Regions from separate parts of the Homo sapiens genome. Here region 1 is linked to region 2. The links come from fine-mapping of genetic effects on gene expression. A gene starts in region 2. The other region holds a variant in brackets. All regions are shown on one strand. Distances are between the middles of the regions.

Region 1 (5,379 bases), 29 kb before region 2:
TTGATGACAAATTTACTATGTGCCAATCACAAGTGTAATAAATGTCAAGATTATATCGCCACACCATTTACACAATTTATATCATCTTACTATGTTTTATTTAGGTATTATAAGAAAAGGTTATATATAAAATAATTTCCACAATGCAAGGAATTGTATTATGTGCAAACTTCTCAGACAACCCTCAGCAGAGACTTCATAATGCACACAAGATGCATGGAAGAAGTCAGTGAAGAGGAAGAGGTTGAAAGGCATTACAAAGAAAGTAGACACTGTTAAGAAAAGTGACGAGAAAATACCCGAAACACATATAACACCGAAGGATTAATATCCAGAATACATAAAGAGCTCTTTAAAGATAAGGCAAGGCCTAATGCAGTGGCTCATGCCTGTAATCCCAGCACTTTGGGAGGCCAAGGAAGGAGTATCACTTGAGGCCAGGAGTTTTGAGACCAACCTGGACAAAATAGTAAGACCCCCCCCCCACCTCTACAAAATATAGAAAATAAAAAAATTAGCCTGATGTGATGGCATATGTCTGCGGTCCCAGTTATTCCAGAGACTGAGATGGGAGGATCACTTGAGCCCAAGAGTTGGAGGCTGCAATGAGCCATGATCACACCACTGTACTCCAGCTTGAGCAACAGAGTAAGACCCCATCTCTTTAAAAAAATTTTTTTAATTAAAAAAATAAAAATAAGGTAAGTCTAGAACTTCCAAAGGGAAATCCTGCCTGTCTAACGACATCATTCTAATAGTAGAATCCAGCAGTCTCTGAAGAGACCCATCACTCAGATTTACATTTACTTGAGCTACTATATTCCCTTTCTTTGCTTAAGCTAGTTTGAACTAGGTTTCTTTCACTCAGTACTGAAAGAATCCTGATTAACATAGCATACAATTTAGCAGTATCTATAAATATTTTAACTTGGCATGGTGATGGTTAATTTTACATGTCAACTTGACTGGGTTAAGGGATGCCCAGATAGCTGCTAAAACATTTCTGGGTATATCCATGAAGATGTTTCAGGAAGACATTACCATTTGAATCAGCAGACTGAATAAACAAGACTTGCCCTCACCAATGTGGGCAGGCATCATGTAATCCTTCAAGGACCTAAAAGAAAAAAAAGGCAGGGAACCCCCTTTGGGTCCCCTCCCATTGTATGGGAGCTCTGTTTTCACTCTATTAAATCTTGCAACTGCACACTCTCTGGTCCGTGTTTGTTCCAGTTCAAACTGAGCTTTCACTCACCGTCCACCACTGCTGATCACCGTCGTCGCAGACCCGCTGTTGACTTCTACCCCTCCGATCTGGCAGGGTGTCCACTGCACTTCTGATCCAGCGAGGCGGCGCCCATTGCCACTCCCAGTCGGGCTAGAGGCTCACCATTGTTCCTGCACAGGCTAAGTGCCTGGGGTTCATCCTAATCGAGCTGAACAGAGCTGTAACACTCACCGCATGACCCAAGATTCCATTCCTTGGAATCCGTGAGGTCAAGAACCCGAGGTCAGAGAACAAGAGGCTTGCCACCATCTTGGAAGCAGCCTACCACCATCTTAGGAGCTCTAAGAACAAGGACCCCCCAGTAACATTTTGGTGACCACAAAGGGACCTCAAAAGCGGTGAGTAATATTGGACCACTTTCACTTGCTATTCTGTCCTATCCTTCCTTAGAATTGGAGGAAAATACCGGGCACCTGTCAGCCAGTTAAAAATAATTAGTGTGGCTGCCAGACTTAAGACTCAGGTGTGAGGCTATCTGGGAAAGGGCTTTCTAACAACGTCCAACCCTTCTGGGTTGGGAGCGTTGGTCTGCCTGGAACCAGCTTCTGCTTTCAATTTTCCTGGGGAGGCCGAGGGCCGACTAGAGGCAGAAAGCTGTCGTCCCGAACTCCCGGCGTTAGCTGGTTGAGATCATGGCGCAGCCGAAGTCTCTACTCAACAGTCGCCCGTGCATGCACCCCTACCTTTCCTTCTGACCCATACCTCCTGGGTCCCGACCATGACTTTCTTGAAAGTGTAGCCCAAAATTCTCCTTACTTCTGAATCTACTTCCTCCGATCCCTGCCTCCTAGGTACTAATGGTTCAGACTTCATTTCCTCTCCCAAGTATTAGAGCAAGTTGTATCTCCAAAGGGATCTAAGGAAGTTCTATGCTGTGTCCTTAGGTACCTAGGCT[A/G]TGAACCCAGGGAATCTTGTCCCTGGTGTCCCAGTTTAGATATACAGCTCTCAACATGGGCAGTTATGTGGGACCCATTCCCCACCACCCTTGCCAGGGCCCCAAGTTTGTAAATGGCTAGGAGGATTGCTCTCTCATCATGTAAGATGCTCTCCTCCCCTGATTTTTACCCAGCTTATCCCTCTGCAATACAATCTCCAAGCCTTGGCTCCTTGGCCAGGGCCTTGAAACTCATGACCCAGTACTTTAACAACTGGAACTGGGTCTATGACAACATAATAGATCAGGATGAAAGCGAATTAAGTAACTCAAGGAGAGAAGAGACAGAGAGAGAGAGAAAAGAGAGGGAGAGAGAGAAAAAGAGAGATAGAAGTAGTAAAGAAAAAACAGTGCACCCTATTCCTTTAAAAGCCAGGGTAAATTTAAAACCTATAATTGATAACTGAAGGTCTTCTCTGTGACCCTATAACACTCCAATACTACCTTGTTGTCAGTGTAAACAAGGGCGTAGCCTGAAAACACTGAGACCACTGACAACACATAGCCTTCCTATCAAAAATCCTTAACCCAGTAACCCACGGAAAAAGGCACATGGGATAAACAGGATCCATCTCTCAAATTTCATACCGGCAAGGACTTAATCCGGGGCAACAAAAAGTTTAAGATTGATAATTAGGGCGTATTCCTACAAGGGAAAAGGACAAAGGCCCTAGTGGGCAAAAACTCTACCTCAATCCTAACTCAAAAGGTTACCTACACCCTCTCTGAAAAGAATTTGCATAAGAACTGTTGTTTATGGGAACGCATCTTGATGGGGCAGCTGGGTTGTTATAAAATACTCAGGAACCCAGCCCAGCTCTAGAACTCACCCTTGAGCGCAAAGGCAATATTGGGCATGCTGGTAAAGGACCACTAGAATCCAGCAGCCCGGACCCCTTTCTTTGTGGTCAAGAAAGGTGGGAAAAGGGGTGCAGGACTGCTACATTGGTGAGTGTAACTAATCCGATAAGCAGAGGTCCATGGGTAGTTGTACACCCTGGAAAGGAATAAGCACTAGGACCACAGAGGACGCTCTAGTCCTCTGGGATAATGCTCATTGGAAAATGACTAGAGGTGCTGGCATCCCTATGTTCTTTTTTCAGATGGGACATGTTCCCCACAAGGCAAAAACGCCCCTAAGATATATTCTGGAGAATTCGGCCCAGAGTGTATGTACCTTTTTCCCTGTCAGACTTGAAGCAAATTAAAATAGACCTAGGTAAATTATCAGATAACCCTGATGGCTATATTGATGTTTTACAAGGGTTAGAACAATGCTTTTATCGGACATAGACAGATATAATGTTGCTGCTAGATCAGACGCTAACCACAAAAGAGAGAAGTGCCACCATAACTGCAGCCAGAGAGTTTGGCAATCTCTGGTATCTCAGTCAGGTCAATGATAGGATGACAACAGAAGAAAGAGAACAATTCTCCACAGGCCAGGAGGCAGTTCCCAGTGTAGACCCTCACTGGGACGCAAAATCAGAACATGGAGATTGGTGCCGCAGACATTTGCTAACTTGCGTGCAAGAAGGCTAAGGAAAACTAGGAGGAAGACTATGAATTATTCAATGATGTCCACTATAACACAGGAAAAGGAAGAAAAATCCTACCGCCTTTCTGGAGACACTAAGGGAGGCTTTGAGAAAGCATACCTCTCTGTCGCATGACTCTATTGAGGGCCAACTAATCTTAAAGGATAAGTTTATCACTCAGTCAGCTGCAGACATTAGAACAAAACTTCAAAAGTCCGCCTTAGGCCCGGAGCAAAACTTAGAAACCCTACTGAACTTGGCAACCTCAGTTTTTTATAATAAAGATCAGGAGGAGCAGGCAGAACGGGATAAACGGGATAAGAAAAAGGCCACCACTTTAGTCATGGTCTTCAGGCAAATGGACTTTGAAGGCTCTGGAACAGGGAAAGGCTGGGCAAATCGAATGCCTAACAGGGATTGCTTCCAGTATGGTTTACAAGGACACTTTAAAAAAGATTGTCCGAATAGAAATAAGCCTCCCCCTCGTCCATGCCCCTTATGTCAAGGGAATCATTGGAAGGCCCACTGCCCCAGGGGACGAAGGTCCTCTGAGTCAGAAGCCACTAACCAGATGATACAGCAGCAGGACTGAGGGTGTCCGGGGCAAGCACCAGCCCACGCCATCACCCTCACAGAGCCCCGGGTATGCTTGATCATTGAGGGCCAGGAGGTTAACTGTCTCCTGGACACTGGCGCAGCTGTCTCAGTCTTACTCTCCTGTCCTGGACAACTGTCCTCCAGATCTGTCACTATCTGAGGGGATCCTAGGACAGGCAGTCACTATATACTTCTCCCAGCCACTAAGTTGTGACTGGCGAACTTTACTCTTTTCACATGTCTTTCTAATTATGCCTGAAAGCCCCACTCCTTTGTTAGGGAGAGACATCCTAGGAAAAGCAGGGGCCGTTATACACTAGAATTAGGAGAAGGAAAAAGGGTAAATATATATAAAGACTCTAAGTATGCTTACCTAACTCTCCATGCCCATGCAACAATATGGAGAGAAAGGGAATTCCTAACTTCCGAGGGAATACCTATCAAACATCAGGAAGACATTAGGAGATTATTTTTGGCTCTACAGAAACCTAAAGAGGTGGCAGTTTTACACTGCCAGGGTCACCAGAAAGAAAAGAAAAGAAGTAGAAGGGAACCGCCAAGCAGATATTGAAGCCAAAAGAGTTGCAAGGTAGGACCCTCCATTAGAAATGCTTACAGAAGGACCCCTAGTATGGGGTAATCCCCTCCAGGAAACCAAGGCCCAGTACTCAGCAGAAGAAATAGAATGGGGAACCTCAAGAGTACATAGCTTCTTCCCCTCAGGATGGCTAGCCACTGAAGAAGGAAAAATACTTTTGCCTGCAGCTAACCAATGGAAATTACTTAAAACCCTTCACTAGACCTTTCACTTAGGCATTGATAGCACCCATCAGATGGCCAAATCATTATTTACTAGACCAGGCCTTTTCAAAACTATCAAGCAGATAGTCAGGATCTGTGAAGTGTGCCGAAGAAATAATCCCTGGCACTTCAGGCCTACATTTCAATCCCTGTATCTTTAACCTCCTTGTTAAGTTTGTCTCTTCCAGAATCAAAGCTGTAAAATTACAAATTGTTCTTCA
Region 2 (5,333 bases):
GGTAGAATTACATTTTTTCTCTGCAGATGCAATCATACTTAATAGTTTTATAGCGAATGATGATTGTATAATTACAATATGGTAAATAGTTGATAAGTTTTCAATGTTTAAGAATCAACCTATAAATAAAGCATAAAAGACTTGTACTGATTGATGTCCTGTGGCTCCTTAAAATGTGTAAAACCCAAGTGTAGCCCGACCACTTTGGGCACATGCTGTCAGGACCTCCTGAGGCTGTCTGTGACACGTCCTTAACCTTGGCAAAATAAACTTCTAAACTGGTTGAGACTTGTCTCAACTACTTTTTGGTTTTCATCCTCTATTACCTTCCTGAGGCTGCTGTAACAAATGACCACAAACTGAGCAGCTTAGACAGCATAAATTGATTGTCTCACAATTCTAGAAACTAGAGGTCAGAAATCAAGATGTCAGCAGGGCTATTCTCTCTCTCTGAAAGCTCTAAAGAAGGATTCTTCCTTGCCTCTTCCTAGCTTGTGGTGATTACTGGCAATCTTTAGCATTCCTTGTCTTATAGACACATACTGCAATCTTGCTGCCTCCTCCTTCCTGGCATGGCATTCTCCCTGTGTGTCCATGTGTATCCAAATTTCCCTCTTCTTATAAAGATACCAGTCACCAGATTAGGGCCCCCTTTGATTCAGTATGACCTCATCCTTACTTGAATTATATTTGCAAAGACCCTATCCCAAGTAGTTCACACTCACAGGTTCTAGGGGATAGGACTTAAACATGTCTTTTTGGGGAACACAATTCAACCCACAACACCCCCTACAATCAATTTTCCACACAGCAGCCACAATGATCTTCACAAATGTACATCGGGTCCTGTCCACTCTCCTGCCTACAGAGCTGTCTCCCTGGCCTCTTTCTGCTTCTCAAACTTCTTCTACCACTTTCCTCTTACACTCCAGCCACACTGGCCTTCTTTCTATCACTCCAACACATCAAGCTCATTCCTGCCTCAGGGCCTCTGCCTAGAAATTTGTCTGGCTCCCTTCTTTTCATCATTCAAGTCACAATTCAAATGTCACTTCCTCACAGAAGTCTCCTCTGACTTACGTACTAAAAGCAACACATCCTACAGGTATTGTCTTTCACATAACCTTAGTTTCTTTGCAGCACTTACCAATACTAGAAATTATTTTACTTATTTAAGTTCCCCTCTTACTTGAACATCAGCTCTATTGAACACAGATTCAATCACTATAGCCCTAAATGCTAAAACAGGACCTCACAGACAGTTTTCATTTTTATTCCGTCAAATACATCTCTTTTCCTTCATGACTTAAGACTAGTGCTTAGCACAGAATAAATGCTAAAAAAAAAAAAAATTGACTATTACTACTATAATAGTTTGCAATTATTTGTTTGTACAATCTCCCTGCCTAGACTGTGTGACCAAAGACAGAAACCCATTTATTTGGCATTTTACCAAGCCCAGGGGGGCCAGGCACAGTGGCTCAGGCCTGTAATCCCAGCACTTTGGAAGGCCGAGGAGGGCGGATCACCCGAGGTCAGGAGTTCGAGACCAGCCTGGCCAACGTGGTGAAACCCTGCCTCTACTAAAAATACAAAAATTAGGGTGTAGCGGCGCGCGCCTGTAATCCCAACTACTCGGAAGGCTGAGAAAAAGGAGAATCCCTTGAACTCCAGAGGCGGAGGTTGCAGTGAGCCAAGATTATGCCTCTGCACTCCAGCCTGGGTGACAGAGCGAGACTTTGTCTCAAAACAAACAACAACAACAAAAATCCCAGGAGTCTGGATCACATTAAGCATTAATAAGAAGTGCTGAATATAATTAGCGAATAACAATTCTGAAGAAAGTTATCTTCTTTGATACTATGGATTCCTGATGTTAAAAAAAAATTTTTAAGATAGAATATGGGACTGTCCTTCCTGCTTTTTGATTTGGTTCAAATCTGAGGAAGTGGGGGCGACCAGTCTTTAACAGATCTAGCAAGACTGTCGAGCTTTAGGGAATGGTAATTTCTCTAAAGCCAACACTCTATGTCCATTATATTGGAGATCAAAACAGACAATGGCATTTTTTCTAAAGAGGGGGAGGGAAAAACAAAACTTTTTGTCTAATTTGGGGATGCAGTCAGACGTGACTTAGTTCATAAACACACACATTCATCTGGCGCTAAACCTCACATAAGGAACCTTACCAGCTTCCTTGATAAAACAACACCCCAACACTTCAATCTAGAGATGGAGGGTAAAAATGTAGGGTTGTGATGTCTAGCTGCCCATTCCACGAGAGTCGCCCACCACGCCAAATTCGGAGGCTTGCGGTATTCACCTACGGGGAGATGGCGGGCTACCTCACCCCAGGTTTCCCCTAACACAGAGTTGCAGTCGCTGAACAAACTGCCCTGCGTTAGTCAGAAGCTGTTAAGTAACGAGATGGCCACGGTCCACAGCAGAAGAGATGGAGATAAGCCTCAAGCGGGAAAAATGAAGTGTACAAATGCCAAATGCGGAGAAAAAGAAGAAAAGCTGCAAGAAGGCAGGTCAGTCAGGAACACCGCCATTTCTCACATCTCATCGCTACTTCGAATTTTCTCATCTAAGGACCCGCACCCGCACGGTTCACACTGTCTTCTTCCCGCTATCACTCCGTGTGGGTCAAACCTCTGCCTGCCCACTGGAGAGCAGCGGGAATGGCTTCAGGAAGCGGCTGCCGCCTCCGAGACTCACCGACCTGCCGTGCTGCCACTTCTACACCGAAATGGCTGGTCCGAGGCCGCGTCTCCAGAGCTGCGTCCCAGAAGCCCCCGCTTTCGATCCCCACCGCGATGCTGCAGCCGTCCGAAAACGAGAGACGCGCAGGCGACGTCCCGGCCCCCGTAGGCGGACGGCTCCGCGACCCCCGGATGTTGATATGTCGTCTGCCCCGGAAACGGTGACAGGAGGCTCAAGGGGGCGGAGGCGGCGTTGCCGGGCTCTCCGGAAGGAGACGTGGCGGCGGTTGGGCCGGTGATACCCGGGCGCTTTATAGTCCCGCCGCCTCCTCCTCCACCTCCTCCTCCTCCTCCTCTCCTCCTGGAGCAGAGGAGGTTGTGGCGGTGGCTGGAGAAAGCGGCGGCGGAGGATGGAGGAAGGAGGCGGCGGCGTACGGAGTCTGGTCCCGGGCGGGCCGGTGTTACTGGTCCTCTGCGGCCTCCTGGAGGCGTCCGGCGGCGGCCGAGCCCTTCCTCAACTCAGCGATGACATCCCTTTCCGAGTCAACTGGCCCGGCACCGAGTTCTCTCTGGTCAGTGCCCTCACTAACCCCGCAGCCACCCCTCCTCCTGACACTAAGGGTTCGGCCTCTTCCCTCGGTTTTCTTTGCTTTTTCTCCCCAAGACCTTCTCTGCAGACTCTTACCTTCCCCAAGCCAAAGCTGCTTTTATGCAGCGTTCATTCATTCGTTCGTTCTCACGTTATGTGGATGCGTCCCCCTTGCTGAGCATTAGGGATCCAGCAATCACCTGCTCTCCACCTTTTCAATTCTGTCGCACTAGACCTTGCTTCCCAACATTCCCACCCTGCAGAAGCAGCTTTCGTAGAATAACGTCAGGTGCACTTACTCATCTTCCTTTCGGAAAATTAACTGTGGCTCTTACTTCACCAGCAGACTTCTTTCCTTCAGTATTACATGTCACCCTGCCCACACCACAGTACTTCAGACTCGAGTTCCCTCTCTCGTATTCGTTCTCCCTCAGTTGTATACACACACGGACATACGCAAACGCACAGCTCCAAGGGAACTTTTTCCTTTCCTAGTTGTTTCTGAGAGGGCTATTTGGCCTGTGAGATGTTAACGACCCTTTATGCAGAATATCCTTTACAGTTTTCATGTATTACGACTGTTATTTGAGTCCCCAGAACATGAGCTTCTATGTTGAGTTTTCCTGTAGTGAAGAACATTTGTAACCTCGCGGAAATGAAAATTCCCTCTTGGGGGAGTGGACCGCTGAAAAGTCTTCCTGTCCACGTGTACCTACTGCAGGCTAATAAATATTGTACTCTTATGACACTTACCATGTAGTAATTAACTCATTTACTTCAAATTGAAGTCCCGGAAAAAGCAAAATTTTTTTAAACTTTTTATTCCAATTACCTTCAAGCATTCAACTTGCAATACTTTATTATATTCTTTCATTACCATTTCATTGAAACAGTAAGTGACACTATGATGTCAAAACAAGATGTGTCAAGTTAATGGATGTTATTACCACATAGCTTTCTATTTGCAAGTGTTAGGGGTTTTTTGGTTTGGTTTGGTTTGGTTTGGGTTTTTCTGTTTTTGTTTGTTTTTTGAGACAGGGTCTCAGTCTGTTGCCCATTCTGAAGTGCAGTGGTACGGTCACCACTGGCTGCAGCCTCGACCTCCTGGGCTCAAGAGATCTCCTCAGCTTCCCAGTAGCTGGGACTATAGGGAAATCCCACCACTCCTGGCTAATTTTTTTTTTTTTTTCTAGAGGCAGGGTCTCACTATGTTGCCTAGGCTGGTCTCGAACTCCTGGGCTCAAGCAATCCTCGTGCCTGAGCCTCCCAGAATACTGGGATTACATGTGTGAACCAAATGTTCTGAATTTATCTAGGTAAATATTTTTCTGGGACGTCAAATTTCTCTTTGTATTAATGCCACAAAATATTGATACATTGAAATACCTATGTAAAATTTTGTTATGAATCAGATATAACTTTAGCAGGCTTGGAAGAGAATACTTTAATACCTGTTGTTGTATCCAAAGAGCACACTTGGAGTGAATATGGCAGATGTTTGAAGAATTATGTCATTAAAATTTTTTACTCTTGGCACCTGTGTTTTTTTTAATTTAAAAAAACTTGCTGATATGCAGCCCTGAAAACTTACTATAAGCGAGCGACTAAAACTAGCATTTTTAGAGGTCACTACCAAATTGTCATTCCATTTTCTTTCAGTCTTAGCATTTGCTACACCAACTTTTCACGTATCTAACAATTTTATTTCAAAAAAAAAATGCTTTGGCCATGTGCGGCGGCTCACATCTGTAATCCCAGCACTTTGGGAGGCAGAGGCAGGCGGATTATGAGGTCAGGAATTCAAGACAAGCCTGACCAACGTGGTGAAACCCCATCTCTACTAAAAACACAAAAATTAGCTGGGCGTGGTGGTGCACACCAGTGCTCCCAGCTACTTGGGAGGCCGAGGCAGGAGAATCGCTTAAACCCGGGAGGTGGAGGTTGCACTGAGCCAAGATTGCACCACTGCACTCCAGCCTGGGTGACAGAGTGAGACTCTGTCTCAAAAAAAAAAAAAAAAAAAAAAATTCTTTTTTTAG

Evidence for each region. PIP is the estimated chance that this variant, and not a neighbour inherited with it, causes the effect.
Region 1: its variant is fine-mapped to the expression of ASB3 in whole blood (TOPMed, PIP above 0.99). The same link has a PIP of 0.9 or more in monocytes and non-classical monocytes.

Annotation. Positions count from the first base shown.
Region 1 is chr2:53,755,503-53,760,881 of GRCh38, forward strand. The region is part of intron 2 of ASB3 (ankyrin repeat and SOCS box containing 3); the gene reads right to left. All of the region lies in intron 2 of GPR75-ASB3 (GPR75-ASB3 readthrough), which reads right to left. Among named protein-coding and RNA genes, the nearest start is that of CHAC2, 9.6 kb to the right of the region's middle. The variant A/G (reference allele first, on the strand shown) is at 2,184.
Region 2 is chr2:53,784,096-53,789,428 of GRCh38, forward strand. It overlaps ASB3 (ankyrin repeat and SOCS box containing 3), which reads right to left and starts at 2,858. Exons shown (of 10, transcript NM_016115.5): 1 at 2,726-2,858. The region is part of intron 1 of GPR75-ASB3 (GPR75-ASB3 readthrough); the gene reads right to left. It overlaps ERLEC1 (endoplasmic reticulum lectin 1), which reads left to right and starts at 2,949. Exons shown (of 14, transcript NM_015701.5): 1 at 2,949-3,277. The coding sequence starts at 3,116. RefSeq lists enhancers at 2,348-3,006, 2,522-2,941.